4 separate regions of the Homo sapiens genome follow, and all the other regions are linked to region 3. The links come from fine-mapping of genetic effects on gene expression. A gene starts in region 3. Each other region holds a variant in brackets. All regions are shown on one strand. Distances are from middle to middle. Region 1 has its middle 49 kb from the start of TNFSF8. Region 2 has its middle 28 kb from the start of TNFSF8. Region 3 holds the start of TNFSF8 (TNF superfamily member 8). Region 4 has its middle 52 kb from the start of TNFSF8.

Evidence for each region. PIP is the estimated chance that this variant, and not a neighbour inherited with it, causes the effect.
Region 1: its variant is fine-mapped to the expression of TNFSF8 in whole blood (INTERVAL, PIP above 0.99).
Region 2: its variant is fine-mapped to the expression of TNFSF8 in whole blood (TOPMed, PIP 0.97).
Region 4: its variant is fine-mapped to the expression of TNFSF8 in whole blood (TOPMed, PIP above 0.99).

What each region holds. Positions count from the first base shown.
Region 1 is chr9:114,877,896-114,886,003 of GRCh38, reverse strand. No RefSeq gene overlaps it. Among named protein-coding and RNA genes, the nearest start is that of TNFSF8, 49 kb to the left of the region's middle. RefSeq lists a silencer at 5,381-5,675. The variant T/C (reference allele first, on the strand shown) is at 3,269.
Region 2 is chr9:114,954,529-114,962,636 of GRCh38, reverse strand. No RefSeq gene overlaps it. Among named protein-coding and RNA genes, the nearest start is that of TNFSF8, 28 kb to the right of the region's middle. The variant C/G (reference allele first, on the strand shown) is at 4,320.
Region 3 is chr9:114,925,769-114,933,876 of GRCh38, reverse strand. It overlaps TNFSF8 (TNF superfamily member 8), which reads left to right and starts at 3,286. Exons shown (of 4, transcript NM_001244.4): 1 at 3,286-3,768. The coding sequence starts at 3,574. RefSeq lists an enhancer at 3,633-4,192.
Region 4 is chr9:114,978,547-114,986,654 of GRCh38, reverse strand. No RefSeq gene overlaps it. Among named protein-coding and RNA genes, the nearest start is that of TNFSF8, 52 kb to the right of the region's middle. The variant C/G (reference allele first, on the strand shown) is at 4,973.

The DNA of each region.
Region 1 (8,108 bases), 48 kb after region 3:
GAAGTAAATATACAAAAATCAATTCCGTTTCTTTTTTCACTTTTATTTTAGTTTCAGAGGTACATGTGCAGGTTTTTTATGCAGGTAAATTGCATGTCATGAGGGTTTGGTGCAAAGATCGTTTTATCACCCAGGTACTAGGCAAAGGTAGTTTTTAGATCCTCACTCTCCTCCCACCCTCCACCTTCAAGTAGGCCCCAGTGCCCATTGTTCCCTTTTTTTGTGTCAATGTGGACTCAATGTTTAGCTCCTACTTATAAGTAAAAATTTGTGGTATTTCGTTTTCTGTTCCTGTGTTATTTGCTTAATTCTATTTCTTATACTATCAACAAACAACTAGAAAATAAAATTTAGAAAAATAAACCATTTACAATAGCACTCAAAAATATCACATACCTAGGAATATATCTGATGAAAAATGTAAAACCCTCTACACTGAAAATTATACAATATTGCTGAGAGAAAGTAGAGACCTAGTGGAGAGAGATGGCACACACATGAGTTGGAAGATTAAATATAAAATAATGTAAATCCTCCCCAAATTGATCCATGGAATCAATGTTATCACAGTTAAAATCACTACAGGTTTTTTTGTATGGAAAATGACAAAATGTTTGTAAAATCTATTTGGAAATACAAAGAACCTAGGATAGCCAAAATAGGTTTGAAGAAAATGAGCAAATTGCAAGTCTTACTGTTATAGTAGGTAGCTCATCAGGCATAAGCAGGGTAGAAGAGGGCTCTCTCCGACTTCACACTCCCCCCCCACCTCCTGTCACACACATCAGGAATGTCAGGTGACAATCAGGTAATGGTCAGTAATGGTCAGGCCGTTGTTAACTGTCTCTCTAAAATAATAATTGGTCACAGCCAGTGCCAGGGAAAGGCCATCTCCTGCTACATAGAAAACACCTGAAACTAGTGATCAGCAGCTTCCTGGAGTTGGGAAAGTGGACTCAAGCATGTGCATGCAGACAGCCCAACCCAAGGGAAGAATCAAAGGAGAAGTGACGCAAGACCCCGGAAGTATGCCAACATATAAAGCCAAAGTTAAACATAAAACCAAAGTATGCCAAAGTAAAACAACGTCAAAAAGTCAAACCGCACACTTGTCTTTCAAGTCGCCCGCTTGGTCCTCTTCCAAGTGTACTGTCTTTCCTTCCTTTCATTCCTGCTCTAAAGTTTCTTAATAAACTTTTACTCTTGCTCTAAAACTTTCCTCAGTCTCTCCTGCCTTGTGCTCCTCTGTTGAATTCTTTCTTCTGAGGAGGCAAGAATTGAGGATTCTATAGACCTACATGGGTTCACTGCCAGTAACATTACTATCAGATGTCAACTTAACTATATAGCAAAGGTAATCAAAATACTGTGGGTGTTAGCATAAGAATAGAAAATATAGTCAATGGAATAAATCAACACAGGTATTATCATCTGAATTGTGACAAAAGTCTCAGTGTAGAAACAATGCCCTTTTTAATAAATGCTGTTGGAATAATTATATCTGTAAAACAAATCAACTTTGACTCCCCCACCTTACACCATACATAAAAATTAATTTGAGATAGATTACAGATATAAATGTAAACAGCATGACAATAAAGCTTCTGAGATAAAGTATAGGAGAGTACTTTCATAATATTGAAATAGATAAAATATTTTATACAGAATATGAAAGACACAAACCATAAAAGTAATGAAATGCTATTCACTACAATTAAGACCTTCTGCTCATCAAAGGACACCATTATGAAAGTGAGTAGAAAAGCCACAGATTGGAAAAAACTTTGCTCTGTGACAAAGGAGTCATATTCACAATATTATGTATAAAAATTCCTATAAATCAATTAAAAAGACAAATCAACCTAATTTTAAAATGAGCAAAACAATTGAATAGGACTTCAAAAAACACACTATCCATATGTCCAGTAGCTAATGATTCCCTGATGGTATCATTAGTCATCAGGGAAATGCAAATTAAAGCCATATAACCACCAAATTAAAACTACTACACACCCACCAAGTTACTAAAATTGAGATGACTGACAATATCAAGTGTTGGTGAGGAAGTGAAGCAACTGGAAACCTCATATATTGCTGGAGGAAGTGAAAGTGTTACAATCATTTTGGAAACCTGTTTGGCAATACCTACTAAAGCTAAACATATGCTTGCCTTATGATCCAACCATGCTACTCCGAGGCATATTTGTAGAAGTGAGGTCATATGTCAACAAAAAAGATGGGTAGAATAATATTTGTAGCTTCTGAGCAAAACAACTGTCTCTGAATATTACCTTACTTTGGAAGGTATTGGCATACATTTGAATTAAAGTCAGAATTTTTCAAAATAAGCCCTAATTTAAAAGACTATTCTATATTCAAAGTAAAACAATATTAATAGAACTTTCCTTTGCAAAAACAATAAAGGAAACAAGGCATTTTGTAAAATGTGGTCCTGAACAAGTCACAGTAAAAAATAAATGTATACTTAACTTCCACCTCTTCAAAACAGAGGCTACTTTCTGTTCCTCAGCCTTGGAAACAAGGTGAAGAACAGCCTGTATGCAACTTCAGACAGGGGGTTACCAAAACAAAGCTGAAGCAGTTGACCATGGACACCTCAAAAGAATTTCGGAGAACCTGACCGAAGGATCCAAATTCTATGTTTTTTGTTTTTGTTTCTGTTTTTGTTTTTTTGAGACGGAGTCTCATCCTGCTGCCCAGGCTGGGGTGCAGTGGCGTGATCTGGGCTCATTGCAACCTCTGCCTCCCGGGGTTCAAGCTATTCTCCTGCCTCAGCCTCGCAAGTAGCTGGGATTACAGGCACGTGCCACCAGGCCCGGCTAATTTTGTTGTATTTTTAGTAGAGATGGGGTTTCACCATATTGGCCAGGGTGGTCTCAAACTCCTGACCTCAAGTGATCCGCCCGCGTCAGACTCCCAAAGTGCTGGGATTACACGTTTGAGCCACCGTGCCAGGCCTAAATTCTATTTTTAATAACTAATACGAAAGTGAAGTGGCTCCTCCCAAGTAGCAGTGCTGCCGGGGCCTGGCCCAGGCCTAGCCCTGAGCTCGACTCTCATGCTCCCAAGCAAACCCTGATGCTCCTGCTCCAAGGTAGACCTTTTCCCTTTAGAGGTTCAGTGTCCAGGGAGCTCTATGATTGTGTGAATGAGGTGAGCGCCAACTCCATGTGAGTATTTTAAGGCTTGGAGTCAAAGTATTTTCCTAACACTCCTAGGCAGAGTCCATGGCCCATCTCCAGTTTGT[T/C]CTAATTTCTTACCATGCATCTGTAGCTCTAGGACCGCAGACCTTCATCACAATCGTATCCAATGTCCATCGTAAATTTTTTTTTTTTTTTTTTTTTTGAGACAGAGTCTTGCTCTGTCGCCCAGGCTGGAGTGCAGTGGCACCATCTCGGCTTACTGCAAGCTCCATCTCCCAGGTTCATGCCATTCTCCTGCCTCAGCCTCCTGGGTAGCTGGGACTACAGGTGCCCGCCACCATGCCTGGCTAATTTTTTCATATTTTTAATAGAGATGAGGTTTCACCATGTTAGCCAGGATGGTCTCGATCTCCTGACCTCGTGATACGCCCGCCTTGGCCTCCCAAAGTGCTGGGATTACAGGAGTGAGCCACCGTGCCCGGCCCACCCAAACTTATGATTCATATTCTGTACCTGGAAACAGTCCCTGTATTTAACAATAGCACCTACACATGAAAACAATCCACTGTTACAGCTTATATAGTCACAAAACATTAATGATCTTCTGTAGAACAAGCAAATTTTTTTACCATAATTGTCGTGCATCAAATTCTTGGCTGTCTAGCATTTCTTGGTAAAAAGACATAATTCTAAAACCATTCCTCCATTGATAGACAAGCAGGCTATTCTCAATTTTTTGCTATTTCGACAGTACTACAATCAGCATTCCCCAAAATATAACTTTATGCACCTAAAATACAATGAGAATTTTTTGTAGATTAGATTTCTCAAAGTGGAATTCAGTGTCAGTGGATATGGGCATTTGAAATTGTAACAGATGTCACAAATTATTCTCCACAATTTTGAAACAATTCAGTACCCATCCAGTAGTATATAGTGGAATCCATTTCCCACACCTTCACCAGCAATGGATGCTACCAATCTTTATTACTTTTGCTAATCTAAAGGGAGAAATGGTGTTTTATTGACATTTTATATGGCCTTTTTAAGATAACATAATAATACATTTATGCTGATAATTGCCAACACTAATATGAACTAGACTCTACTAATAATGTCACATTAATTAAATATGTTTAAACACAAGATACTGACCATGCCATAGAGAAAAATTCTGCTTTGAAAAGGGGTTGGAACTGGTTACATTTTGCACAGGAATTCATTTGCCCTAGGAGTACCTGCCCTGTCCACAACCCTTGCTGAGGGAAATAGTTCTGGGTAACTTCCTAAGCATAGAAAGCCACACTCTATATTCACATCATCACGGCCTGACTTTTAGAGAATTTGACCAGAAACAGATTACTCCTAACCAATCCTACAGAATGGCCAGTTACCCATGAGTTAGTCTAGTTTGTAAGCTTGGTTCTACAGTGAAAACATTGAGTAAGGGGACTCACATCTTCATGGTGCTTTGTAACATTCTCTAACCTAACTCTAACCTAACCCAACTCCTGCCCCACAAATCCTCTCACTGTAACCCTCTGGATGCCTGCTCTGGGATCAGCAAACACCCTAAATTTCCACCCTTTTCTTAGTAAGTTCTTTTTACATATTTTGCCTTAGTTGAAATCTGGCTGTTCTCTGAGACAGCATTTCTCCTGTAGCCCTCTCAAAAGGAAGGTTGTTTGTTTTCTCATAACTCACAACCTCATAGTCTTGAGATGGGGTAGCTGTCTGTGCTCTGCATTTCTTCTTCCGTATATACTATCTCTCCCCCTTGCTCTTATAAAACACTCAAGCTCTTGCAAACTCACAGCCTCTCATTGTTGCTATAAACTACTGACATCCCGACCACAACCCCTAATCCTGACAACCTGAACTCTTGGCTCAGTTTTCTGTCCACCCCAACTCCTGTCATTATCATCACTGGTCTCAACATCCAGCACCCTGGTGTTGCCATTCCCATTCCACCTTTTCCTCCACTCTATCTCATCTGCCCACTCCGACAGTCACAGCTTGAATCTTCTCATCAGCAGAAACAATATCACCTGTGAAATGTCAGCTTAAACATCCCACTCCCTGACCACCACCTTCCATCAGTCCAGATCACATGCTGCAGAACAGCCCCACCACTCCCACCACAAATCTTTGACGTCATCCTCCTGTCCCCACAATTTTCTCATGGCTCTCCTGACTTCTCTTCCCTCTTGTTCATCCTAGATTTCATGAATAATCATTTCAGTTACTTCCTGGCAAATCCTACCAACTCATTCACTCATATCCTCCTTCATCATACTTTCCTGCAAACACCAGACATCTTCCTCCTTGAGGCTGACCCCAAGCAGCTGTATGTTGCTAGAGGAAACAATTGCACAACTGAGATGATGGGTTTCTTGTTAATGTGGTGATCCCAAGAATTAGTAGGGCTTTACCACTGCACAGAGAGCTGATCATCTTTCTCTGACAGGATCACCTTCCCACTCCCCAAGGTGAATAACTTCTCTCTCCCACATCTCCTCCTACATATATCATTTCTTTCCTCATACTTAAGAAAAAAACAGAATTCACCAGAAGCAAACTCTGAGCTTCTCACCACCCATGCTCAAGCTTACAATATCTGTACTCACCTTCTCTTCTTTTTAACCTGTTATGGTGGAGGATGTGTCCCCAGGCCTAATGAAGGCCAACTCTCCTCTTGGGCACTGAATTCCATCCCATGAATTCATCCCTGCCTTCTAAAAGACTGTACCTCCTTAGTTATGTTCTCTCCTGGAATAGAGTCAGTCCTTCCTTTCTCCCTACAAAACCACTCCCATCAGCAAGCAAACATGCTCTACTGCCTACCTTTTTGAAAAGGCAAATCTTCACCCCTCCAGTTTCTGTACCATCTCTCTATCCCTTACTCACAGCCAAACTCACCAAGAAATATATCTACACAATATGTGTAAATTCTCACTTCACCTTATTCCTCTTTTACTTACTATGTTATTCTAGAAAATTAAAAAATAGAGAAGGAATTGGATATTTACCTGTGTATTTTTTGATAAATTTTAAAAAGACACACACAAAATGCACAACAGAGGTTGCCACTATGGTGGGCGCAGCAGAATAAAACTAGAAGCATAACACAGAAGAGAACTTCAGCATCATCCTTTTATTCTCAATGATGCTCTCTGCTCTGCCTTCCACCTCCACACCCAGTGGAAACTGATCTTGTTACAATCATCCATCAACAAACCTCATGTTTTCAAATCCAATGGACATCACTTGGTCTTTGTTTTACTCAGCCTCCCAGTGTCTGTCACAGTGCCTAGCACATGCTTTTCTCTGGGCTTGCATATACCACCTCGCTAGGACACCTTTCTTAGTTACCTGGCCATTTCCTCCTCATCTACCTGAACTTAGCGTTCTTGGGAGGATTTTTTCTTCCATTATCTCTTCTATGATCATGGCTTCCAGTGCCATCTATCGGCTGTAACTGCTGCATTAGTCCATTATCACACTGCTAATAAAGACATATCTGTGACTGGGTAATTTATAAAGGACAGACATTTGATTGACTTGCAGTTCAGCATGGCTGGGGAGGCCTCAGGAAACTTACAACTATGGTGGAAGGGAAAGCAAACACATCTTTCTTCACATGGCAGCGGGAAGAGAAGAATGAGCAAAAGGGGGGAAAGCCCCTTATAAAACCACCAAGTCTGGTGAGAATTAACACACTATCATGAGAACAGCAGTGTGGGGGTAAACACCCCCATGATTCAATTAGCTCCCACCAGGTCCCTCCCATGACATATAGGGACTATGGGAACTACAATTCAAGATGAGATTTGGCAAGGGACACATAGCCTAACCATATCAACTGCCAAACTTACATCTCCAGTCCAGATAACTCCTCTGAGCTCCAATCTTCCTAATTCAACTATTTAACACTTTCTGGCAGGGTACAGTGGCTTGTGCCTGTAATCCCAGCACTTTGGGAGGCTGAGGTGGGAGGACCACTTGAGGTGAGGAGTTCGAGACCAGCCTAGCCAACATAGTGAAACCCTGTCTCTACCAAAAATACAAAGCCAACATAGTGAAACCCTGTCTCTACCAAAAATACAAAAATTAACCAGGTATGTTGGTGTGCACCTGTAGTCCCAGTTACTCAGGAGGAAAAGTCATGAGGATTGCTTGAACCCAGCGGGCAGAGGTTGCAGTGAGCCAAGTTTGCAGCGCTGCACTCCAGCCTGGGCAACAGAGCAAGACTCTGTCAAAAAAAAACTATTTAACATTTTTTTCTGATATTGCCAATTTTAAATGCCCAAAACTCATTATTTTAACATCTTCCCCCACTTACCTCGGTTCTTCTGGGTTTCTGCAGTAACTTTTATCACCATCGATTCAGTTGATCAAACCAGAAATCTCCCTTTCACTAATATCCAGCATCTAGGCAACCAGTAAGTGGCTTGTACTACCTAATATGCTGTCTCATTTTTCCTCTCTTGAATCATCTCTACTGCTAACACTGTAATCCACACCATCATTCTCACCTGTATTGCTGGAATAGGCTCCCACCTGTTCTTATCTCTTTCTTGCTGCCTCCTCCCTCACCCCTGGTGTATTTTTGACACACCAAGAAGAATCATCTTAAAATAAAAAATTGGATTATGTTGGTTTATTGGTTGGTCTTGCTTTCTCTTCCTCTCTCTCTCTCCTCCTCTCTTCTCTATTCTCTCTTACATACTCTAGGACCCACAACTCTCTCACTATATCTGGAATCCCCAGAACCTAGCTCAACATTGACACTTAAGAGGAGGACTTTAAATATTAGTTAAATGAATCATTGAAGTGGACAAATTAGGGTATCCTACGATCATTTAAAATCCAGAAACAAAGGGCTAAGAAATCAGTAAGAGAGCCAGAAACCAATGCACATGAGTAAAGAAAGCTAAAATAACA
Region 2 (8,108 bases), 29 kb before region 3:
CTCTTTATTTCTCAGCCAGCCGACACTTATGGAAAATAGAAAGAACCTACGTTGAAATATTGGGGGTGGGTTCCCCCGATAGGCGCCTGTAATCCCAGCTACTGGGGAGGCTGAGGTGGGAGAATCGCTTGAACCCGGGAGGCAGATGTTGCAGTGAACCAAGAACGTGTCACTGCACTCCAGCCTGGGTGACAAGAGTGAAACTCCATCTAAAAAAAAAAAAAATGCCGTTGATGAAAAAAGTTAAAAATGAGAATGGATTACATTTATGAAGATTCAAAATAGATGCATATAAAATAATATGCATTGTGACAGAACACATACAAAGAAAGAGAGGGACATAAGCAAAGCAGCATCTTTCAGGCCTCCCTCCCTCCCTCCCATACTCCCTACACATCTATACTTTCCATGCCAACAATACTGAACTGTTTGTTGTTCCACAAACTCAGCATGTCTTTTCTCCACCATCTCCCTCTGTATGCACTGTTCCTTCCTCCAACCTTCCCATCTAATTCAATGAGGGATGGGCACACTGAATCTTTCTTATTGGGGAATCATCTGAGCTCACAGCTTGTTATTTGGAACAGAATAGTTGCTCAGTAAATATGGCTGACTTTAAACTCAGCTTGGACATCCTCTGCAGGCCTCTCTTGCACCACAAACCCCTTCCATTCTCCCTCAATCTTTTTGTGAAAATAGCTACAGATTGTTAGAAGATTGTACCTTCTAAAATCGCAGCATTATGCTACTAATCTGGAAGGCATACACTTGGAGGCCAACATTCTGGGAGCTCAAGTTGGGAAGAAGACTAAAGTGTAAAGTTTCCATAAGTTGACTTTCATTTAATCCCCCAACCATTTTCTATAAAGTACCCCTTCTTCCAACTGTGCCTGGTGTCCACCAGTCCAGAGCTCTTCTGATTCACTGCCTTCTGAGAGTAAACCTCCAGCTACATGCCAGGGCAAAGGAGAAGACATCACCTGATGTAGTGGGTAGGGTGGACCTAGAAGTTCTCTTGCTCTTTATACAGATTCTCAGTCACTCCTCCTTTTAGGCCCAATTTTACCTCATTCAGAAGTTCCAGAATCCAGAACTTTTCTGGGGCTCTGGTGTGCAAATCCCCTCGCTCTCCAGCTTCTGCTGCTTACAGCTCAGAATTCCCAGGTCTACAGAAGCCAGTTGGAACAGTTGCCTATCTGCTTTCTTATTTTCAATATTCTTATCATCCCTTCTACCCTTCTTTTTGTCCTTGAGGGTTTATGCTGCACACTATGCCAAAAGTTTAGCTGCTAGCATTGTGTTGTTATTTAAGAAGGTGCAAGGATAAATGAATTTGTTTAATATATCATCTTTAACCAAAAGCTGCCTATTTTCAGACATTTAAAAATTGTTAAAAATGTCTTCCTTTGAGGGAGGGAAAATTGGCAGGTTGAAAAGATCTACCTCCTATTCTTGTTTTGACACACAGATTTCTGATGTTAGAGAACACCTTGATGTTCCCCTCACACTTTGATTCCCTTTCTTCTCCAGGCTGTAGACAAGCTCCCCTCCAGTACTTATTAAAATTATTGTATTTGTAACCAATGGAAAATATACCTGGAAAACATGTGAAAAGTGGGGTTGGAATGAGGATGGAAGGTGGTGGGTGCACTGGAAGAACACAGAGAGCTCAGTTACCTTCTCCTAGGTCAGTGGTTCTCAAGGCTCACTCCCTAGATAAGCAGCATCAGCATTACCTGGGAACTTATTGAAATGAAACTTCTCAAGCTCCACCCTAGACCTGCTGCGTCAGACACACTGGTGATGGGATCCAGAACTCTATTGTAACAAGGAGATTCTGATGCACACTCCTGTTTGAGAACAACTGCCTTAGAATCAACTGTGGCCATGGGCACAAGGACAACGAGGAAATCTGGCCACTGCGTTACAGGGGCCATTACATGAGAAGAAACAACTATAAACTGGAGAGCCAATGAGTTGATATGAATTACACTTCTATCCCCTAGTGATTAATGTTATTCCTGTGGAAGAAACAGCTAACTTCAGAGTGGTCTTTGTTAAAAAATGATTACTTTCCATTTCTATTTTAATCTTAGGGTTTTACTTGCTTTCTCTACATCCTGTATATGAGTGTCTGTGCTAAGAGAGTGAAACCAGATCTAGAATATCGTCACCATTTGGTACCCTTGGTGCTACTCATAATTACAGGCTTGACAACAGCTTTGCACTGCAGGTGTTGCTGATGGCCTTCCAAAGAGCTTTGGAAGTTAATGCTTTAGAGTTAATCTCAGGAGTTAATGCTTTAGGGTCTTTTAACCAAGAGGTAATCTACGATAAAGATAGTCAATCGCCCACCCTTGGTTTGATTTCTTCCAACCTTAGGAAATACAGAGGGGAATGCACCCCAAAGCAAAGTTTCAACATTGATACTTAAGCTACTGTGATTCAGAAAAGTTTTCAAAAAGTTTCAACAGAAATGTTGAAAAGTCAGTAATAGTACATAACCCATTTTTTTCCACAGAGACACGTTCTCTCAACCCCATCCAACTTTCCCAGAGTGCCTCTAAGACTCTAATAAACTAAAGATCCCGTACCTTGAAATGAAAATCATGGTTTCAATTTTAGGGTCTATCATGTGCCTAGCAACATACAAAGCTTTTATGTGTATTATTCACAATTTGCCTAAACTTTATGTTTCTGTGTTTTATCCTCCTTTTAAATACGAAGTGAGGACTCAGGTTAAACAGCTTGACCAAGGCCACACAACTAGTAAATCAGGATTAAACCCATATCTATCTGCCTGTAACATCCGTGCTCTTAACTACCCACCACACTGTCTTAGCATAGAATTGCCTCCTCTATGAAGACTTTCCACCACCCCAAATCCAAGTCAGTCACTTATTATTCTCTGCTGCTATTTGTTTACTTGTCTGTCTCTCCTGCAAGACTATGAGCTCTGGGAAAGCAAGGTTGGCTTGATTTCTTGCCTTGCTAGCACCTAGGAAAGGGCCAAACACAAAGGATATATTGAGTAGTTGTTTATTAAATCAAACAGTAATGAAAGGGGGGCAGATAAATGAATGGATGAATAGATGGGTTTCAAAGAGAAGTTACAGCAGCAAATACATAACTCTAGCACCCATAGATCAAGTATTAATTAGGGGAAAACCAAAAATATTTATCTGCAAACAATGGCACCTACATCCACTGTCTCTTACCTTTGCCATGTCTTTCATATCTCTGCCAATTTTGTATGTTTGCTACCTCCCCTTTTTTCCTTCCCTTCCTTTTCCCTCTCTCCCTTCCCTTTAAATACCTGTAATATAGAACTGAAATCATACGTGTAATATTTTCGTTTGTTGTAATTTATGATTCAGATATAAATAATGTTTCCTCATTCTTAATTTCAAAATCCAGTGCATGGAACATTTTTGTAATGTCTAAAAATAAGATCCAAAACACAAACACCCACAATTGTCTCTCCTGATTTAACAACATACAGTAAATTGATATTTTTTCTTTTTTCTTTGGTGAGTCAGTGACCGCCAAAAGAAAAAAAAAATTATCCAATCTTGTTCAATGATAGGAAGTAAGAAGATTTCAGCACCTACTAAGTGCCAGTTGTGTGTGTGTGTCTGTGTGTGTGTGTGTGTGTGTGTGTGTGTGTGTGTCGTCCATCTTCTTATTTGCATTTATAGGGAGACAACTAAGGCTCAGAGGTTATGTAACTGTCCCACTGTTACCCAGGAAGGAAGAGGAGAAAGTAGGATTCAAACTCAGGATCCATGATTAGTTCTCTCGCATGAAATTAAAGACATCATATGGTAGAACAAACAAAGAGAAAATTTGCCTAGTTGAAAACAAAAACCTAGGATTAAGGAACGCTTTTTCAAGGAGAGCACCAAGGTTACTAGAACACCGTTTTGTAATCATGGGTGTAGAGCTTGCATGCTGACATTTCCTATGATTCAGCTCTGCCGTCCTACTCGGCTCTTTACGAAATTAAACCACATTTTAGAAAAGGAAACAATATCAGACTGATAATAATTTCTGTTTAAAATCAGATAATTTAAAACAAAGGTGAAAACCAGTGGAATGACATAGATTTTTATCTCACCTGCTAGTCACAGAAATGTTGAGTGTGAAAAACTTTGAATTCCAAATTCCAAAAATAAAACTTTCTTTGCTGGCTCTGGAGGTTTCTCATATTGTTTCACAACCTACATGCCCACGCCCCCACTCTCATGGCATCTGCTTCCTCTTCCTCCCCCAGCCCATGCCATGAACCCGAAGGCATGCGACAGGGAGGGGGTCTAGGG[C/G]AGAGAAGAGCCCAGGAGCCCTTCCCTGCAAGGGCACTTCTGAAAATCCCCAAACACCACTTCACCAAAATTCTCTCAGGCTGCTCTGGGCTGAGCAAGAGTGGAAGAAACCAGGCAGGATGTCAGCCGTGCTTATGTTCTCAGAATTGCTACTTGGCCACAGTTTTCTCTGGCTTGAACCATAGCAGTGGGCAGAATGGAAAGTGTATGAAAAGAAAGTGCAACTGATGGTCTTGGAGAAGTCCTCAGAGTGAAAGCAGGAGGCGCCTGTGGGAGACTTCAGCCCTCGCTAAAGCCAAATGGGCCTAGCCAAGCTGCCTGGCCCAAGGTACCAGTTCCTACCCTCCTGTCCAGATTTTAGGGCATTCTTGGAGCATCAGTATTCTCCCCTCATACCTCATTAGCTTTCGATTGCATTTTGCACCTTCATTCTTAAGAAGTCATTTGCCTTGTTAAATGTGAGTATTCCCCAAGGCCAGTGCTAAGTCTCTGTTCTTCTGGCTGCATCTCAACAAAGTTGTAGAGTCAGAACACTATTGTGGTTGAACATGAGGCATGAGTTTAGCCAGATCTGACTTCCAGTGTGGGCCCTGCCAATTATCAGTTTTATGACCTTAAGCAAGTAATCATCTTTCTTCATGTCATTCTCTTCTTGAATTACTCTGCGAGAACAACTCTCTAACCTGTTTTCATTTCCCACCTCTAATATAGCCAACTGCCTGCTAAACATTTCCACTTGGACGTTCCTTTATTGCCTCAAGTATGACAAATGAAAACCATTATCTATTCTTCCCCATCCCCCCAAAATCTTTCATATTCTTTCTTTCTGCTAAGACAACCATCATGTTTTGTTCTATTTTGCTTTTGAGATGGGGTTTCACTCTGCTGTCCAGGCTGGAGTGCAGTGGTGTGATCACTGCTCACTGCAGCCTCCACCTCCCCAGGCTCAAGTGACTTTGCCACCTCAGCCTCCCAAGTAGCTGGGACTGCAGGCACCTGCCACCATGTCCTTAACCAGTATTTTTTGTAGAGATAGGATTTCACCATGTTGCCCAGGCTGGTCTCTAACTCCTGGGCTCAGGCAATCTGCCCACCTTGGCCTCCCAAAGAGCTGGGAGTACAGGTGTCAGCCACCATGCCTGGATGGAAGCGTTTTTGAGAATCACCTTTAACCTCCTATATTAAATCAGAACCAAAGTCCTATTGATTTTTCTTCTCTAAACTTTCTGCAGTCCCACTCTTCCTTTCTCAAAAGCTCTCGTCGGTTCATAGCATCTTATTTCCTACATGTGTACCCTTTTCAAACTAGCCTTCATACCACAACCAGAAAAGTTATTTCTGAAATTGCTTTGATCAAAATACCCTACCATCACCACCTCTCCCACCACTGAAAAAATACTAACAAGCTCCCAACCAGGAAAAAATTCACTCTCCTTGCCCTGAGTACTCAAGGCTCTTCATAAAACAGGATCAGTGTCTCCCAGCATCGTCTCCTTGGGCTCCCACCTGAGGCCTCTTCCTCAAACCATTTCACTCAATATGTAGTCCCTCATTTGTCAAATATGTGTAGAATACCCACTTGGAGCCAGGTGTGATGGATACAGTGGGTGAATAAACAGACACAGCCTCTTCCTAGCAGGAAAGCAGACAGGCTTTAGACCACTAAACACATACATAGGCTGGGTGTGGTTGCTCATGCCTGTAATCCCAGCATTCTGGGAGGCCAAGGCAGGCCAGATTACTTGAGGTTAGGAGTTCGAGACAGCCTGGCCAACATGGCAAAGTCCCGTTTCTACTAAAAATACAAAAATTATTCAGGTGTGGTGGTGGGTGCCTGTAGTCTCAGCTACTTGGGAGGTTAAGGCATGAGAACTGCTTGAACCTGGGAACTGGATGTTGCAGTGAGCCAAGATTGCACTACCGCACTCCAGCCAGGGTGACAGAGTGAGACTTCATTTCAAAAAAAAGAAAAAACACATACATAGAGACAAATTGTGAACTTTGGTTAAACACAACAGATAGGTCATAAGCAGTTATATCTTTTTCTTCTCCCAATAAAATGAACCAAAAATTATTTTAAGGTATAAATGAACAACAAATTTTAATCAAATTTTGAAAGACAGGGAATAGATACATGAGTAATAATCAACTTTGTTGAAAAGTTGAGAAAACTTCAACTTAACAAGCCTGGAGAGGAGAATGTTGAACATAATCATTCTCATGAACCCTACACATACCTGCAAAGTGTGGCTCTTAGAGACCTGATGCCCACAGAGGCAAGGAGCAAGATATGAGGCCGCACATTTGAATGCAGGAAGAGTTAAATTGGTAGATTCCCTCCCTTGGCCCCACAGAGCCTGATGGCAACCCCACAGACAGAAGATAGGAAAGCTAGCATCTGGAGAAATCTTTTGAAGAAATTCCAGACTCACGTACATCAGACACAGACTGGGACACAAGTGAGACATGAGATTGAAAATGATCACGCCAGGGTACATGATCATGCATTTCAGAACTCCAGGGATAAAGACATGTTCCTAAAACCTCTCAGACAAAGGGTTGAGGGCAAGGAGAGAAGAAGATCAAGATCATATACAAACAGGAATCAGAATGGCAATCAGTCATCTGCCAGAAATGCTAGAAGTCAGAAAATAACTGAAGAAAGCCTTCAAAATTCTGACAAAATATTTTATCTGGAATACATTACTTAGCTAAGCTATCAAAAGACATAAGAGGAACATATAGACATTTCCAGACATAGAAAGACTCGGAAAATTTACCTCCCTTTTACACCCTCTTTTTTAGGAGGTTACTTGAGAATATCCTCCAGCTAAACCAAGGAATGAAACAAGAAAGAGGAAGTGCGGAGGTCCAAAAAACAAGGGGTCTAAAACAGGAAAACAGTGGGGGGAAGTTCCAGGATGCCAGCAGGGTAGGACACAAAGAGAACCAGCAGTACAGATAGCAACGCAGGCAAGGGGGCTCTAGGACAGGGCTTTGGGAAAGTAAAGCATTACAAAAAAATAATATCTGGTCTATTTTATCATTTTGATTAGGAGTTGACAAACTGCAGTCCGTGGACCAAATCCTGCCTACCACCTGCTTTTGTAAATAAAGGTTTTTTGGAACATGGCCAGCTGCCCCCCTTCATTTACATATTGTCTGCAGCTCAGTTGCATATTGCCCATGACTTTAACAGCTGAGTTGAGTAGTTGCAACAGAGGCTGTCTGGACCAAAAAGTCTAAAAATATTTACTATATGATCTTTTATAGAAAGAGTTTGCCAACGCCTGATTTAAAAGGAAAAACTAATTAGTGATCTGATGGAATGGGTGAAAAAAAGATAAAAATAAATGTAGAACAAACAACACCAACTGGAGGTAAACAGGCAATTTTAGGAAGAATAAAGTTGGACAAGAAAATATATGATCCTAGTATACTACTTGGACTCTGCAAATAATTTTTGTATAATCATAAAAACATAAACAATGATTTGGATTTATCCAAAAATTGTGAAATGAATATTAAAGCAAGAGGAGAAATGAAGAGATGTATAGAAGATCTAAATTTTCCTTTTATAGCAGAAAATCAGTAGAAGTCTAATATTAATAAATCAATATATAACAATATAAGCATATTTGCTAGAAATACTGAGGCATGTATTAGAAGAGACAGCTAGCACAGTTCCAAGTGATTTCTCTGGAGAGCAGGACCAAGTGAGGTAGAGATTCATAGGCAGAGCACTGCTGTTTTCATTATAAACCTTCAGCATGTTTTTTAACTTGATAA
Region 3 (8,108 bases):
AAATAGAGGCATTCCAGAGAGGGTGTTGGTGGACTTGAGAGATCTGGGCAAGCATTCCTGGAGATGGTGAGGCGGGTTGGCAAAGGCTGGAAGGGAGAGGAAGAACAGGAGCAGTGGAAAGCCAAGTAAAACACGAGAGGAAGCCTGGATGCACCTGGAATATTAGCAGAGCCGACATGAGAATGAGCAGAGAGGGCCGGGCAAGCAGAGGGGGTTGGGTGCGGTAGCTCATGCCTGTAATCCCAGCACTTTGGGAGGCCGAGACAGGCAGATTACGAGGTCAGGAGTTCAAGACCAGCCTGGCCAACATGGTGAAACCCTATCTCTACAAAAGATTAAAAAAAAAAAAAAATAGCCAGGCCTAGGGGTGTGTGCCTGTAATCCCAGCAACTCAGGAGGCTGAGGCAGGAGAATCACTTGAACCTAGGAGGCAGAGGTTGCAGTGAGCCGAGATTGCGCCATTACACTCCAACCTGGGTGACAGGGCGAGACTCAGTCAAAAAAAAAAAAAAAAAAAAAAAAGGAGAGAGAATGAGCAGAAGGGACTCTTACACCTGTCTCTCTCCCTGATGGTATGTACTTCCTTTAGTTGTTCCCATTTCTGTGTCCCAGTTTCCTCCTTTTGTGGAATGAAGGATTCAAGCCAAATTTTCTGAAGTTTCTAAATTTTATTCACCTTGGAGAGACCCCATGCCAGAAAAGGGCAAATGAGCAGGTGAAGCTTAGCCCTTCTCTTTGTCCCACCTGTGCTTCAGCCAAAGCAGCCCTGTTTTCTTATGTTTTTATATTCCTTATACAGCTTTGCTTCCAGAAAGGATTTAAAACTTACTCAACAAGAAATTCTATAAAGGCTCCTTCCATCTGCACATCGTACAGCTTGAGTAGAAGACAGAAAGAAGCCAGTTAGCACAGGTCATGGATTTCTATGTTGGCCAGGCTAGATTCTAGAACAGCTGGAAAGCAGAGAGGGGCTTAGAGCAATGGGGGTGGGAAATAGGGAGCCACTGAAGGTTTGTGAGTAGAGGAGTGTCACAGCAAAAGAATGAATTGAGCCCACAAACTACTGTACTAGGAACTGATCCGAAAATCTCAACTGCTCAGAAAGTTGAGTAAAAACAAAGGGTGATTTTTCCCCCTTGTCAGCCTTCCCTCCCAGGACATTGTATTGTATGCAAAACGGGTAACTGTAAGACAAACATTTTTTTCCACTGCCCTTCTCAGCCCCACAGGCCTTCAGGAAGACCCGAACTTCAAGCAAAGCCTTTTTATTTTTCAACACCCACAGCTTCCATTCAACAATCAGAAGTTTTCCACTTTGATCAAAGAGGCTGAACAAGAGGGCCAAGGGAGCAGCTGGTTCTCAGCAACTCTGGGCAGACCACAGAGCCCTTGCTACCCACTCACTGTCCGTGCCCACCAGAGGACACAGCCTTCTCCCCAAATCAGCCAGGTACATGCCCCAGAAAACACTGGCTTGCCTCGTTCCCACCTTAATTACCGGACCAAACGAACGTGAACACACTGTTTTCAAAACCAAACTCAATTGGGATCACGGGGGCCTCGGTTTCCTTGATTGTAAAATGGGTATATCGCCCCCCACTCTATTTAGCCCAAGAAAACAATTTATCTCTTGATGTCTCTTTCGTCTCCAGGATCTATGCTTTTACAGACTCACTGGGAGGAAATATCCAGACCAAATCCTAAAGCCTGATCTAATTTGGGAGATGCTCAGAAGTTTTGGTTCTATGCAAGAACAGCAGTGGTAATAATCCAAGCTTGGCTTTAGACACAGGACGTTTCCTTAGGGGCATCTGGGATCTCTGCTGGCTCAAAGTGATGCGCTGCAGACAAAAAGTGAGCAGAAAGGAAAGGAGGTGCTATGCAGAATGAGCTTCTTCCACGGTGATACCAAATGGAGCTTTCAAAGGCCCACATCTGGAGGCAGCAGCTATGCAGTGATTAACATTTTAAACGGTATTTTGAAATGGAGATCATTAGTAACCACAGATGTGATCTGACTCTGTCCCCCAGGTAATCTGTCTATTGTATCTAAATTCCAGACTTAGCCCAGTAGACAGCTTGGGATGTTTAACAGGAATTGTCCAACACCATCCCCAAATCTATTTTTATTCATGGAGTACTCTGACATCATCTCGCTTGGTCTTCCTGATGACTGTAATGCAGATTGGGAACAGAGAAAGCCATAAAGACTTGTATGATGGCCCAAGGCTAAGAAGGGAAAGGGCTGAGACCACACTTCAGGTTTTAGCTTTCAGGTGCAGTGAAGATTGAATGACTTAGCACGAGCTTTCAGCCAGGCAGGCTGCAAAGTGCACCCAAGTTCTTTCAGTGATCGACACTTGCGACTTAGGTTGAGATAGTTTTCATCCTCCCTGAGCCTCAGTTTTCCCATCTGTAAAAAATAAACATTGCCTGCCTCGGAGGGTGGAGGTGGAAGTGGAATGAAGCCACATGTAACTCCTAGCGCTGTGCCTGAGACAGTAGAGGTTCAATTATAGTAGTCACATACACACACAACACATACATACACAAGACACAACACACCACACACAACACATACATACACACCACACACAACACTTACATACGCACCACACTCGGCATGCATTGCAGATCACAAATGCACACCACACACACACTGCATACATATACCATAGAGAACACACAACACCTACACATACCCCCATACCACAAATACACACACACTACATAGTACACCACGCAGAACACACACAGCCCCCATATTCCACACCACACCATCTCACTGCCAATTCCTTCCCCTCTTCATGAGTTTTACGGCAGGTCCAGGTTCATCTGCCAGTTTAACAGATCCCAAAACTTCTGCAGGAGTGTTTGTTCAAAAGATTGATATTTCCAGATTCCTGCTTTCTGACAGTATCTTTGAACCCCAAATTTCATACTGCCATGAGCCAGTCCCCCTTTGGAGAAATATCTCCATTTGTGTGCCCTTTTTCCCCCAGGGAACCTGCAGCATGTCCCTTTTTCAGCAGTAGCCTATCAAACCGAACCCTTTGGAGTTATTACACTGCAGTCCGAGGGATCCGGCCTCCCTGAGACCCAGCAAGGACTCATTATCTGGGGAGGTCTTCTGAGCCACAGGCCTCGCTGAAAGAAGGTGCAGCTTCTTGAACAGGAAGGCGTTTTGTGGCAGAGTCTAAACGAAACAGAAGTTGCTTTGTGTGTGCGCACGCATGCACACACACACACACACACACACACATACACACACACAGTCGGGGAACCGTCATTTTCCTACGCGCCCTCTGACATCAGCCACCTTCTCTGTAGCTAGTTTCTCTGCACACAACTTAATCCCTGGCAATGAAAAATGAACCTCTCCCCCACCCTTGCTGCCGCCTCTCGCCTCACGCCCCCAGAGAAGAGTTTCTCCACCAGGCAGCAGGTGAAGGTTTTTTTCCAAGTCACATGATTCAGGATTCAGGGGGAGAATCCTTCTTGGAACAGAGATGGGCCCAGAACTGAATCAGATGAAGAGAGATAAGGTGTGATGTGGGGAAGACTATATAAAGAATGGACCCAGGGCTGCAGCAAGCACTCAACGGAATGGCCCCTCCTGGAGACACAGCCATGCATGTGCCGGCGGGCTCCGTGGCCAGCCACCTGGGGACCACGAGCCGCAGCTATTTCTATTTGACCACAGCCACTCTGGCTCTGTGCCTTGTCTTCACGGTGGCCACTATTATGGTGTTGGTCGTTCAGAGGACGGTAAGTGGACTCCTCTTCCTCCCTTTCCTTTTCTTGTTGTTTTCCCGAGAGAAAGAGCCCTGGGAACAAATGATATTCGTTTGTTGGTTAAGAGCACAAAATAAAATTAAATAAATAAACTCTCTCTCTCTATATATATATATATACTATAGTATATACTGTATAACGTAATACACTTATGTTACATAATATATATTATATTATACAGTATATATTATATATATATATATATATGAGAAAGGGAGAAAAGAAAGAGGAACTTAACTCTCTAAAATAATTTGGCTTGTTGAGAAAAATATTGTTAGACCATCATCTTAAAACTTTGCAGATCTGTCTGAGCAAAACAGTGGAGGGGAGCTATTGGCCTTTTAAAGTTAAGATTTAAATCTTAATGAGCCAGAGACCCATATCAAGGAAGGAAGCAATAGAGAAACCTGATAACACATTTGCACAAGTTGTTATCATGTCTTCAAGGACTTCAGACTGGATTCTGAGGTTCTATATCCTAAGTCTGAGTGTCCTGGAGGTTTCTGAGGCCTCACCCATTGCCAAGAGTTTTGTTTTTGCTTTTGTTTTATACAAGGAGCTAAGTTTCAGAGGCCAAGGTCTAGAAGGAAAGGAGGCGAAAGAGAAGACCATGGCTTCTTAGAGCTTTGGACATTTTGGTGTTAAAGCCAGCAAGACAAATCGAAAGCTTCCTCTTAAGCCACAACTTTGAAGAAGTTAGGGCGTCACAAAAAAAAAAAAAAAAGAAACAGCACATAGAAGCAGAAAGTTGAAAGGTTTTTAGCACCTGTTCTCTCTGATGTTCCTCACAATACTAAGCAATCGTTGGGTACACACTGTACAGGGTCAGACTGTCTTCGGAGATTTACTTTGAAGTAAATGGTAAGATTTGTTTCTGAAAACAGAAGAGGAGGAGAAAGAGGAAGCTTCTTCATATTTTAGAAAATTGGTGTTTACAGAGAATCTACCAGTATATATTATATAGAAAATGCTGTAGTAATAGCATATATTGCTCATGAATTTTTTGATGAAGTTGTTAATGGGTAATTTAAGAGCTGCACCCACCCACATGACCTGCCAAAGTGAGAATATTTCTGTTTCTTACTTCATAGTGCCTACTTTTCGTGGTATTATAATCCTGCTGAATTTATTCTGGTTTTTCTTCAGTTTTCTTAGGCCAAGTACTCTATAGCTTATCAATTGCTGGAAAGAACTAGGCTTTAAAAGGCTTTGATATCTATTTCTCAAGTGTCATCAAGCTTTGAAATTAAATGGAAGCTTTGAAGCTCATATCTCTACAAAAGTGAAAAGAAGGAGTTGCAAATATTTGATTTAGATAGTGGAATTCTTAAAACTCATAATTTAATGGCTTATCTACATCTATTAAGTATAATAATCTTGAAAACACTTTAGGACATCTTTTCTTCTGCAGGGGCTCTGCAATTTCTGTAATTCTAATTTGGAGTGAACCAAGGGTATGTCATTTTATAGCAATGGCCAAAGAAAAGAAATTGAAGTGTCCTTTAAGAAGTTCTTTAGTTAAAGGATCCAACTAGAACTGCTGAGAGAGAGAGAGAGATGGTGGAAAAATGGGTGGCGATGGTGATATATAAAGCTAGAGAGAACTTCAGAGCTCATTCATATCCAACTTTTAGTTGAATTGATTTCTTCTATAAAAGAACCAGAGCAGATCTTTCTGCCTCATTTTTGTAAATGTGGAAAATGAGGAGCAGAGAGGGAACAGGGCTTGAACTACGTCACCCTGAGAAAGTGGTAGAGCCAATACTGCTTGATTGCTTGATGCAAGCAGCATCCCCTTTGCCAATACAGACAGCCACAGAAGCACTAAGAAACATTGCACCCACTCTTCTCTTGGGAGCTTTATCTTCTTGTGCATCCACTTCCTTGACTTACCCCTCATGTTTGGATATGAAAAGATTCACTGTGCAATCTGATTGTACAGTGCGGTGTGCTGTGATTTCTTAGACCAGGAAATATCAGTTGCTTCCTTAAAATTAAGGCTTGCCATGTTAATAGTAGCCGTGGTATATAAAGTGTCAAATGCATTGCACATATCATTTTCAATAAATTCCTCAGACCTTAACTGTTGTAAGACCTAACAAGAAAAAAAAAAGCATCATTTTCCCATTAACTTGAGTTATCAGGAAGGGTTTCCTATAGGAAGATGGAATGTAGACTGACTTGAAAACAGGAAGAACTCAGACAAGTGAAGAGACTCTAAAAGAAACTCTAGGAAAGAAATCAATGGGAGAAAGCCAAGGAGCTTAGACTCACATCACCATTATTAAAAATGGAATGAGTTAATGGTCAATTAGCACTCTGTATGTGATGGGAACAGGGGTGGAGAACCATAAGAATGGTTTTACTGGCACAAGAAGTCACACAATTCTTATCCCAAGGCACGTGTATAGACAAAATTTAAAACAGCTAAGTCATAACATATAATGAGTGATTAAAGGGATACCATGACACCACAAGTTAAGGAGAGAATATATTTTTCCAGACAGGTTTAAGAAAAACTCCTGGGGATTAGTTTCAGGTTGGCTTGAGAAATGTGAACAATTTCAAACAGGCAGGGAAGGGAAAGCAGAGGAGAGGCACTCCTAGCCAATGGAACAGCATGAGCAAAGAGACAGAGGAGAGAAGACAGAGAAAGTGTAGGGAAATCAACAAAGCTTGCCTTGAGGTTTGACTTGAAGATCAGATAACTCCAAGCTTAAACTCCTTGGGAGAGACAAAGGAGGAACTTAGGTTTCTATCTCAAATATTTATTAAATATCTACTGTGTGCAGGACATTGTTCTAAAGCCTTGAAAAAAAACAACAAAATCCCTGTCTTTGAGTTACTATGGAACTTACTTCTTTCCTGTGATATTTTTGAAGCCTCAGTGGTGGTTGTATTTTGTTTTATTTACATTTAAGCCAGCATATTTATAAAATAAATACTATTTTATATAATAATATTACTTTATATTATAAAATAAACATTTTATATTATAAATATATTATAAAATAAACATTTTATATTATAAATATATTATAAAATAAACATTTTATGTTATAAATATATTATAAAATAAACATTTTATATTATAAATATTATATTATAAAATAATATTTTATGTTATTTAATATTTTATAATATATTGATATATTTTATAATATTTATATTAGGAAATACTATACTTACATGGTTTAAGAAAAGTAACTAGCAAATAAGAGAAAAGAAAGTAAAAATCTTCACACCTTCCCCACCCAACCACTAATCCCTCTTCACGGAGATAACCACCATTGACAGATTCTTGTGTGTCCTTCCAAAAATCTGTGCATCTACAAATACACAGTACACATTATAATATATAATAAACCCATGGGTCATTATAATAAACCCATAATTTTGCATCTTGCTTTATTCACTTGACAACACACTGTATATCTTAGAGATCCTTCCATGTCAGTACATAGAAGTTCATTTCATTCTTTTGAAGAGTCGCATAGTACGAAGTGTAAATGCTTCATAATTTATCTGTGCCTGGTGAGAGACATCAATGTTTTCTCTAGAATTTGTGCCCTCTGTGCGTGTCTGCAAGTATATCTGGGGAATAAATTTTTAGTGATAGGAATGGAATGTGCATTTTCTTTTTTTCTTTTTTTGGAGACAGTCTCGCTCTGTCGCCCAGGCTGGAGTGCAGTGGCGCGATCTCTGCTCACTGCAAGCTCCGCCTCCCGGATTCCCCCCATTCTCCTGCCTCAGTCTCCCGAGTAGCTGGAACTACAGGTGCCCGCCACCACGCCTGGCTAATTTTTTTGTATTTTTAGTAGAGACGGGGTTTCACCGTGTTAGCCAGGAGGAATGTGCATTTTCGCTTCAATAAATGTCAGTCTGTCTCCAAAGAGATTGTACTAGTGTACCCCTGAGGAATTAAAAGTCCTACCAACAGACACTTCTTTACATCAATATGGAAAGAAAAAAATGATTTACTGTTGAGCAAGCACAATTGTACATGCAAATAGGCAGCCTGCAACAGACTACAAAGTCAGGATGAAATTTCACACAATTAATCTAGCAAAGCAAAAGAAGAAAAAATAAAACTTCTCTTATCTCCTCAAGAGACAGGGGAATACATAATGAGATAGACAATGAGATAGACTCCTAGGTTAACACCACAGGTAGGTGTTTACATTTCAAAAAGCCTCTGAAGCCCTCAACCTTAGAGACGTCTTTGTTTTGTAAACCAGGAGACTGGGCTTCTCTAGCCCCAGGGGAGAATGTAAAGGGTTACATTCCAAAAGGTTGGAGTATAGGGTTCACAA
Region 4 (8,108 bases), 53 kb before region 3:
TGTCCTCTGCCCTCTGGCCACCTGTAGTTGATATAAAGAATAGAGTAGAAAATCTACTACTTAATGTTGTGCTACTCCACTGTGGCGAATATACAAATCCCAAATGTCAGATAGATAGGGTAAGGCAGTATGGAATTTACACAGTTGGGTGTGAATTCTTGCTCTGCTATTGATGAGCTCTGTGACCTAGGTCACATTCATGGAGCTTGTAAATGGCTACAATCACATAGACCTTCACTTGTGTTTCTCTGAGTATTAGTAAATGAGATAACATCTAGTAAACGAGATAATATTTACTAGAAAATGGTGTGCACCCAATAAATAAATAATGGATGGAAGCATGAGATGTGCTTATCTGTCTATCTGCTGCTCCTCATTCCTTTAATTCCTTGACTCCACCCTGGAAAATTCAATTTGAGTTTTACACGCTAGGCATGAAATGTTAATAAGAGATGGTGGGCAGCTGTGGCAGGCATTCCTAAACATTCCTCCTAGGTATTGCACTCAGCCCTGGGGGAACCAGGCTGTAAGCTAGGGGCCTGTAGCCAGGTCTCTGGTGCCATGCCAGGGCAGGGTGCCCCAAGATAAGGTGGAGATCCCCAAATACCTACACCTCTGCCTCAAGCACTCCATAGAGCTTAACAGCCCCAGCATTTAAATTGGATGTGGGCTGTTTATCATAATCTATGTTAATATCAGAGAGGTGCTTGAAAAATTGAGAGGTATTCCCATAAAGCCATGCATTTGAACTACTTCCTAAGCATGTATATATGGATCATCTCTTTTGGTCTTTGTAACAAACTCATGGGGTTCACTGAGCAGGTACAAGTCTCTTACCTTTGCAGGTGAAGAAACTGCAGTCAAAAGGTGATGCATTTTGCTCATGGTCACAAAATTAGCATGTGGTAGTGTCAAGGTGAAACCCAGAGGGTTCATCACTAAACTGACCTATTGTATCAAGGACTTACTCAGCTTAGACATCCATCGATGCCTGTGAGCATACAACTGCACGACTAATTTTGCTGCCTGGACATCGTTTCCTGTCATATACACCTTAGCTTATCCATCCCATCTCACTGCTGAGTGTATTTCTTAGTAACCATGAGATTATTAAAGAAAACATAAGTTTAAAAGGACAGGTAATTATAATCTTTTCCTTTCACACTTCAAATTAACACTTGGTACAAATGATACACTCCCAACTCTGTAGCGGAGTTTGCTACCAGTCTCCCGAGCCGTGTAGAAAAAAGGAAGATCCCAAGGACTCAGCCTTCCACCTCTTTGGCACTTCCTCAAAGCCAATATACTGGACCTCCCGATATATTCCAAGATAGGATTATATTAACATATTATTTCATCTAAGATTAGAAGAGTAATTATTAACAGGAAGACGTGTTCATTAAGAAAAAATTTTAAATATGGAAAAATATAAAAATGAAATCACCCATAATTCCACCTTATGTGTATGTGTGTATATATCTATGTTTATATATGTATGTATGTGTGTATTTGCGTGGGTGTGTTTCTGTGCTTTTCTTCTTCCTGTGCTTATGAAGCTTGTGGTCCTAACCCTCTTCCACACATGCTCACACTCCGTGGGCAGGAGGAACACAAATCCTCATGCGGCTTCCTTTCTACTTATGGAGTGCAGTGTGGGGACACCATGCCTAGGAATCTTATGTGGCCTTAGATGCAGAAAAGTGGCTGTTTCAAAATTTCTTCCTGGTTTTTGTGGGCATCATGGGTTGAGGGCTTTATAATTGTGTTCCCTTCTTTAAAAGTGGAAAGGCTGTTGGGCGCGGTAGCTCACGCCTGCAATCCCAGCACTTTGGGAAGTGGAGGCAGGCAGATCTCAAGGTCAGAAGTTCAAGACCAGCCTGGCTAGCATGGTGAAACCCTGTCTCTACTAAAAATACAAAATTTAGCTGGGCTTGGTGGCGGGCGCCTGTAATCCCAGTTACTTGGGAGGCTGAGGCAGGAGAATTGCTTGAACCCGGGAGGCGGAGGTTGCAGTGAGCCGAGATCATGCCATTGCACTCCAGCCTGAGTGACAAGAGCAAGACTCCATCTCAAAAAAAAAAATAAATAAATAAATAAATAAAGGGGAAAGGCTCTGGGGGACTGCCAATTCCCCAGATAGACCACTGTTTATCAGCAAAGACCAGTTTTTACTGACCAAATATGGGAGAGTACTGCCTTGAACAAGTTTTAGTTTGTCTTAGAAAGAGGAGGTCCAGGGTTTGGGGGTCTGGATTCCAGTGTTGCAGGCAGGTTTTGTCATCTGATATCTTAGGATTGGTGGACACTGAGAGGCTAGAGGCTTGGAGGTAGTCTTCCTAAGTAAATGGATGTTTGATAAAGCAAGAGGGTTTTTCCAGCTGGGCAACCTGTTGTCTTAAGAGAGATGATGTCTACCCAGATGAGCATCCAATTGGCCTGGGCAGAATAAATGGGTTTTCATGAAGTGCCTGAGGTTAACAATGAAGTTATTTACTGGTTTACAGCTTTATCTTCCTGGGCAAGAATTTTCTGGAACAAATGGTAAAGTCATATTGGACCTTGGTTCCTAGTCCCTGATCACCAAATTTAAACAACCACCAAACTCAGTAGCAGCGTGGAGGAGTGACTGAGCCCCAAGAAAACATTTGGCAATGTCTGGGGACATTTTTGGTTATCTTCACCGGGAAAAGGTGCTTCTGACATCTAATTCACATAGCTTAGGAGTGCTGTTCAACATCTTACATAGCACAGGACAGACCACCACCCCTGCAACATAGAATTATCCAGGCTAAAATATCAAAAAAATCAAGGTAAGAGACTCTGACCTGTAAGAAAATGAAGTTTCACTCCGAGGACATTTGAAGAGGGAAAGGAGAAACAGGGACCAGAGGGCAAGAAATAAAGTTAGGAACCATGAGGGGACCCCCTGGGAAGGGGCCAACTTAAAAAGAAGTCTGGGACCGACCATATGACTGAGTACATCATATTATTAGTGATGTTTTATGGTCAATACTGTAGTAAAGCATTTGCCTACATCATTAAATATTTTTTGAAAACATGGCTTTTAATGGTTTAATAATATCTTCATGTATGCCTGTACCATAACTTTTTAACTAAGTCCTTATTTTTTGCAGGCAGAGTGTTTCTGATTTTCTGATGTTGTCAGCCGTAGAGCAATGAACACTTATCAATACATCTTTGTGAACATCAGGTTGTTTCCTTAAATTCTTAGACATAAAATCGTTACATGAAAGGACATATATGTTTTCTATCTTTTGATATATGTTGCCAAATCCGTTTTCAGAAAGACTCCCCAATATACATTTCCAACAGAATTGATAGAGGGTCCTTGGGATTTTTTTTTCAATGTTTATGCTAAGGGACCAGTCACTACCATAAAAGATTTTTCTACCTGATCCTTCCCACTCTTTCTTCCAAAGAATGCATCAATTCAGAAATATTGTGCTACTATGGCTGCCTCAGCCTTCCAGATTCCAATTCTCCCTTTTATGGAATTATTAAGAGTAGTTGAAAGTTGAGAAAGCAATTACCTCCCTAATGATATCCTAGAAATCTGAACCTTTTAGTATAACGTCAAATGATTCCATTTGAAAAGAGGGAAGAGGAATTGATAAGCACCTAACATACCACCCCACCTTTCAAAATGGAAAAAGTAAGATCTAAAGAGAAGATGCTGCTAGTTTCACAGAACCAGGGGAAAGTTGAACCTAAAATCCAAATTCTTTATTCTTTATCCAGTGCTATTTCTGCTGAGTCCAGCTTCCAAAAAATACAGATAAAAAATACTTTAACATGTGACATTTTCATAGATAAAGAAAATTGGGCTCAGAAGAGTTAGGCAGCTTACTTCTGATGACAGAGCTGGTAAGTGGCAGAGCTGGACTCCAACAGCTTCTATCCAATTTGACTAGTTGGATAGATGATCTGACTTGACTAGCTGGATCTGATGATCCAGAAAGCGAATAGTCCATAGTTAACTTATTCATAGAAAAGCCTCAGGTGAAAAGATGATGCTCTCTTTCATATTAATGAATATTATAATATGGAGTTAAATCTAAATTAATTAACTAGTGGATTCCCTTTATAATAGAAAAATTTATGGTGTACACTGTGTTGCTATCATTCTAGCCAACACAGTCTACAAATTTACTGTCTTACAGGGTGGTCACTAGACATGTGGAGTTACTGAACACTGAAAATGCAGCTAGTTCAAGTTGAGATGTGCTGTAATGTACACTACAAAATAAACTTCAAGGACTCAGTATGAAAAAATAAATGTAAAATAACTTGTTAATAGTGTTTACATGATTAGATGAAATAAAATTAATTGTTAAAATTCATTTTAGCTGCTCCTTTTTCCTTTATTTACTGTGGCTACTAGAATTTTTTTTTTTAATTTCTGTGTGGCTTATATTATGTTTCTATTGGACAGCACTGGTCTAAACTACTTGCTAATTCTGTGATCAAGTCATCTCAACCATCATCCAGCAGAAAGGGCCCTAAAGATGGAGAGTAATTTGATATCTGATCATCAAAACTGTTGACAACACCTAGAATCTTAAACTGTTAGTTCTGGAAGGAACCTGTGGCAGAAACTTCTAATTGTTCTACAATACCCATTATCCTCTTCTCTCGGAATCACGGAACCCCAGTTTTTAGCTGGCAACGTATATCAGCTAAGAATATAGACTCTATTTCTGTATTTCCTAATCTACCTTGCAGATTGGGTGAGCCCATGTGACAAACTTAAGGCCAAGGGAATGTGAGCTGAAGTACTATGTGCAGCTTCCAGGTTACATATTTAATCATTAGATATTTTGCTTGGCTTTGTATGTTTTCCTGCTTTAGGAAAAATATAAAGGATCCTGGACCCTGGAGGATTTCTTGGAGTAGAGACACCTATAGCCTATCTTGAGACCTCTACATGAGGAAGAAGGACGTTTCCATCTTC[C/G]TTTAATACAACTAATTTAGTCTTAATTAATACAGATCCTGGAGGTCGTTTTTGTTCAACACTCCAACATTACAGGATAATTATATATCAGAGAGGACTACAATTACCTAAATTCACACAGCAACTTAGCATGAGCTGGGTCTTGAACCTAAAGCTTCTTATTATTTATCCTTCCCTACCATGCATTGCACTCAGCTATCTTATCCAATTTACAGTCTATAAAAATACATTCCAGAAGATGTGATGCATAAATGAACTATTATCCTTTGGATCTTAGAGATAAGAATTTCAGTTTGCTCATATATTTTTGTTTTGAACTGCATCCTTAAAACAATGATTTGTGTAAACTACCCATGATGCAATATTAGCTTACTTAAGCGAGAGACACACAGTCATAAAATAAACTTATTCATGACATCTCGCTGGAGGCACTAAAACAATAAAATGTAATCCTGATGTCACTTGCTACCTCCCTGCCCTTTAAAATCCAGATAAGGCTGGCTCAAACGATCAACTCCATGCTTCATGGAAGACCAAAGCCTGCAGATTTCTGGGAAAGAAAAAGGGGAGACGGGAGCATGGGGGATTTGTATTCTGATGTCTCCAAATCTAGGTTTCTGATTCTGCAAATGCTGTTTTGTCCACATGGCTACAATCCAGACGAGAAACCCCGCCTTTCTTCAATTTCTACACACCCATACACTCATCTTGCACAAAGAGCTAATAAGTATAGTGCACTTACTTGAAGATTTATTTAGTAGCTAGAAAAAGGATTATTATATCACAACAACTTCAAATTGGACATTAGGCATCCCCCTTGTGAAGCCCTCCTTTGGCCACTGTCTTAGTTTGGGCTGCCATAGCAAATTACTATAGACTGGATGGCATAAACAGCAAACACTCATTTTCTTACAGTTATGGAAGCTAGGAAGTCCAAAATCAAGGTACCAGCAAAGCTGGTATCTGATGAGGACACTCTTCCTGGTTTGCAGACAGCTACTTTCTCATTGTATCTTCACATGCAGAGACAGACAGAGATCTTGTGTTCCCTCCTTATTTTATAAGGGCACTCATCCCATCATAAGGGCCCCATCTTCATGACCTCATCTAACCTTCTCTACCCCTCAAAGGTCCCGCCACCAAATACCATCACATTGGGAATTAGTATTTCAATATGTGAATTTGAGGTGGACACAAATATTCAATCCATAACAACCACCTTATCATAAGGCAATTCCATAAGATGCTCTTCCCAGGGTCACTACTAGGCCATAGGGACACCTCCTTCAAGTGCAGACCCAGAAAATACGACTTAGGGATCAGGACACTGGTTTAATTGCAAACCCAGCCAGCTGCCTCAGCCAACCAGTTGAGCAAAGGCAACTTGCACAACAATGCATATTGTTGTAAAGCTCTACCTCTGTTTACCCTGTGGAGTCCTCAGCCATAGACCATCTTTCTAGTCCCTCCTTCTCTCATCCCCTTGTAAACCACTGACCTCTCCTATTCCCCATATATCTCTTAACTCCTCTTATATTCTCAGGTTGGACAGCTTAGCTATAGCTTTCCTTTTGCTTGAACTCCTGACAACCCCTTTGGGGTCTTACCTGCTACTCAGAGAGGCTTCACATATGATCTTTCAAATAAGAAGGACTCCTTCTACTACATCCTAATGTCAGTAGATGTTAGTGCCCCCTCCCCAAATTCATATGTTGAACCCAAATCTGCAGTGTGATAGTATTTGCATGTAGGGCCTTTAGAAGGTGATTATTAGATCGTTAGGGTAGAACCCTCATGCATGAGAGTAGTGTCCTTATAAAAGAGACCCCAGTGAACTCCCTTGCTACATCCACCATGTGAGGATGCAGTGAGAAGACAGCAGTCCATGAATGAGGAAGCAGGCCCTCACCAGACACCAAATCTTCCAGCAACTTGATCCTGGGCTTCTTAGCCTCCAAAACTGTGAGAAATCACTGTTCGTTGTTTATGAGCTACCAGTCTGTGATATTCTGTGACAACAGCCCAAGCAGACTTAGATACACTTCACAGATGAATTCTGGTATAAGCTGTCAAGATATTAAAAAGTTCTCTAACTTAGAAAGCAAAAATATATAGTACCTCCAGGCTCTGTCTTTCGCAGAGGGAAATACACAAATATACCTCCTGAAAAGCTAAGTCTGGGACATTTCCCAGAGGGTGGGTGAGATCACAAAGTCCAGACAAATGCCCTGTTATGTGGTTGTTTCTCTTCAGTCTATACCCATCAAAGGGCTTACTGGCCTCTGTTTGATGGACAGTCATTATCTCCCAAGGCAATTGCTGTATCTTCTATCATTGGACCTAGTTCCATCACAAGATGGATACTTTCTATAGAATATGTCCATAGCATAGGTCCAAATGTTTTAACATGGAATTCAAGACTCTTTACACTTTGGAGACCACCAAATCTCCAGCCTTGTTTGCATCTTCTGCCCTTTGTAACCTCCTTTTCATGCCTCTCACTTTTGTATACGTTGCTGTTTCTGCCCTGCCTAGAATTCTTTGTCACCTTTCTAAAACTAGAAAAATTCTGTTATACCATAAAATGTACTGCAACTTCCCCAGGCAGAGTAGTTCACTTGCCCCTTTGTTTTCCTAGAGCTCCTCCTCCAAATCTTCATTATAGCCCACACTAGACCACATTGGAATGCTTCCTTAAATCCTCTGTTGCAGAAGAACTGCATCACCTATTTCTCCAGCTCTCAGAACACAGCCTAAAATACAGTGCCTAAGATACACTGGTTTGGATTGTTACACAACGACTGTATCCCCTCTTCTCCAAGACAGTCCTCAAACACACAAAAACAATGACCTTGCCCATCTGTAGTCATCTCTTCTCTGGCCAGCCCTTAGTACCTTCCACTGGTCTTTATGTAGCATGGACTCCATCCTTGTCTTCTTTACCTGGATATGTTTCTATTTCCTAACTCACTCGGATAAGTGGGATTCAATGTCATGTTCCAGAGAGAGCTCTGCAGAGCCCCAAGGACCATACCTCAAAGAGATAAATTATTGTGCTTAACTAATTGTTCAAGATTTCATTCCCCTACTGGAGCAGAGACAGGGTAGCTCAGATCAGGACGAGCTAGACCTCTAG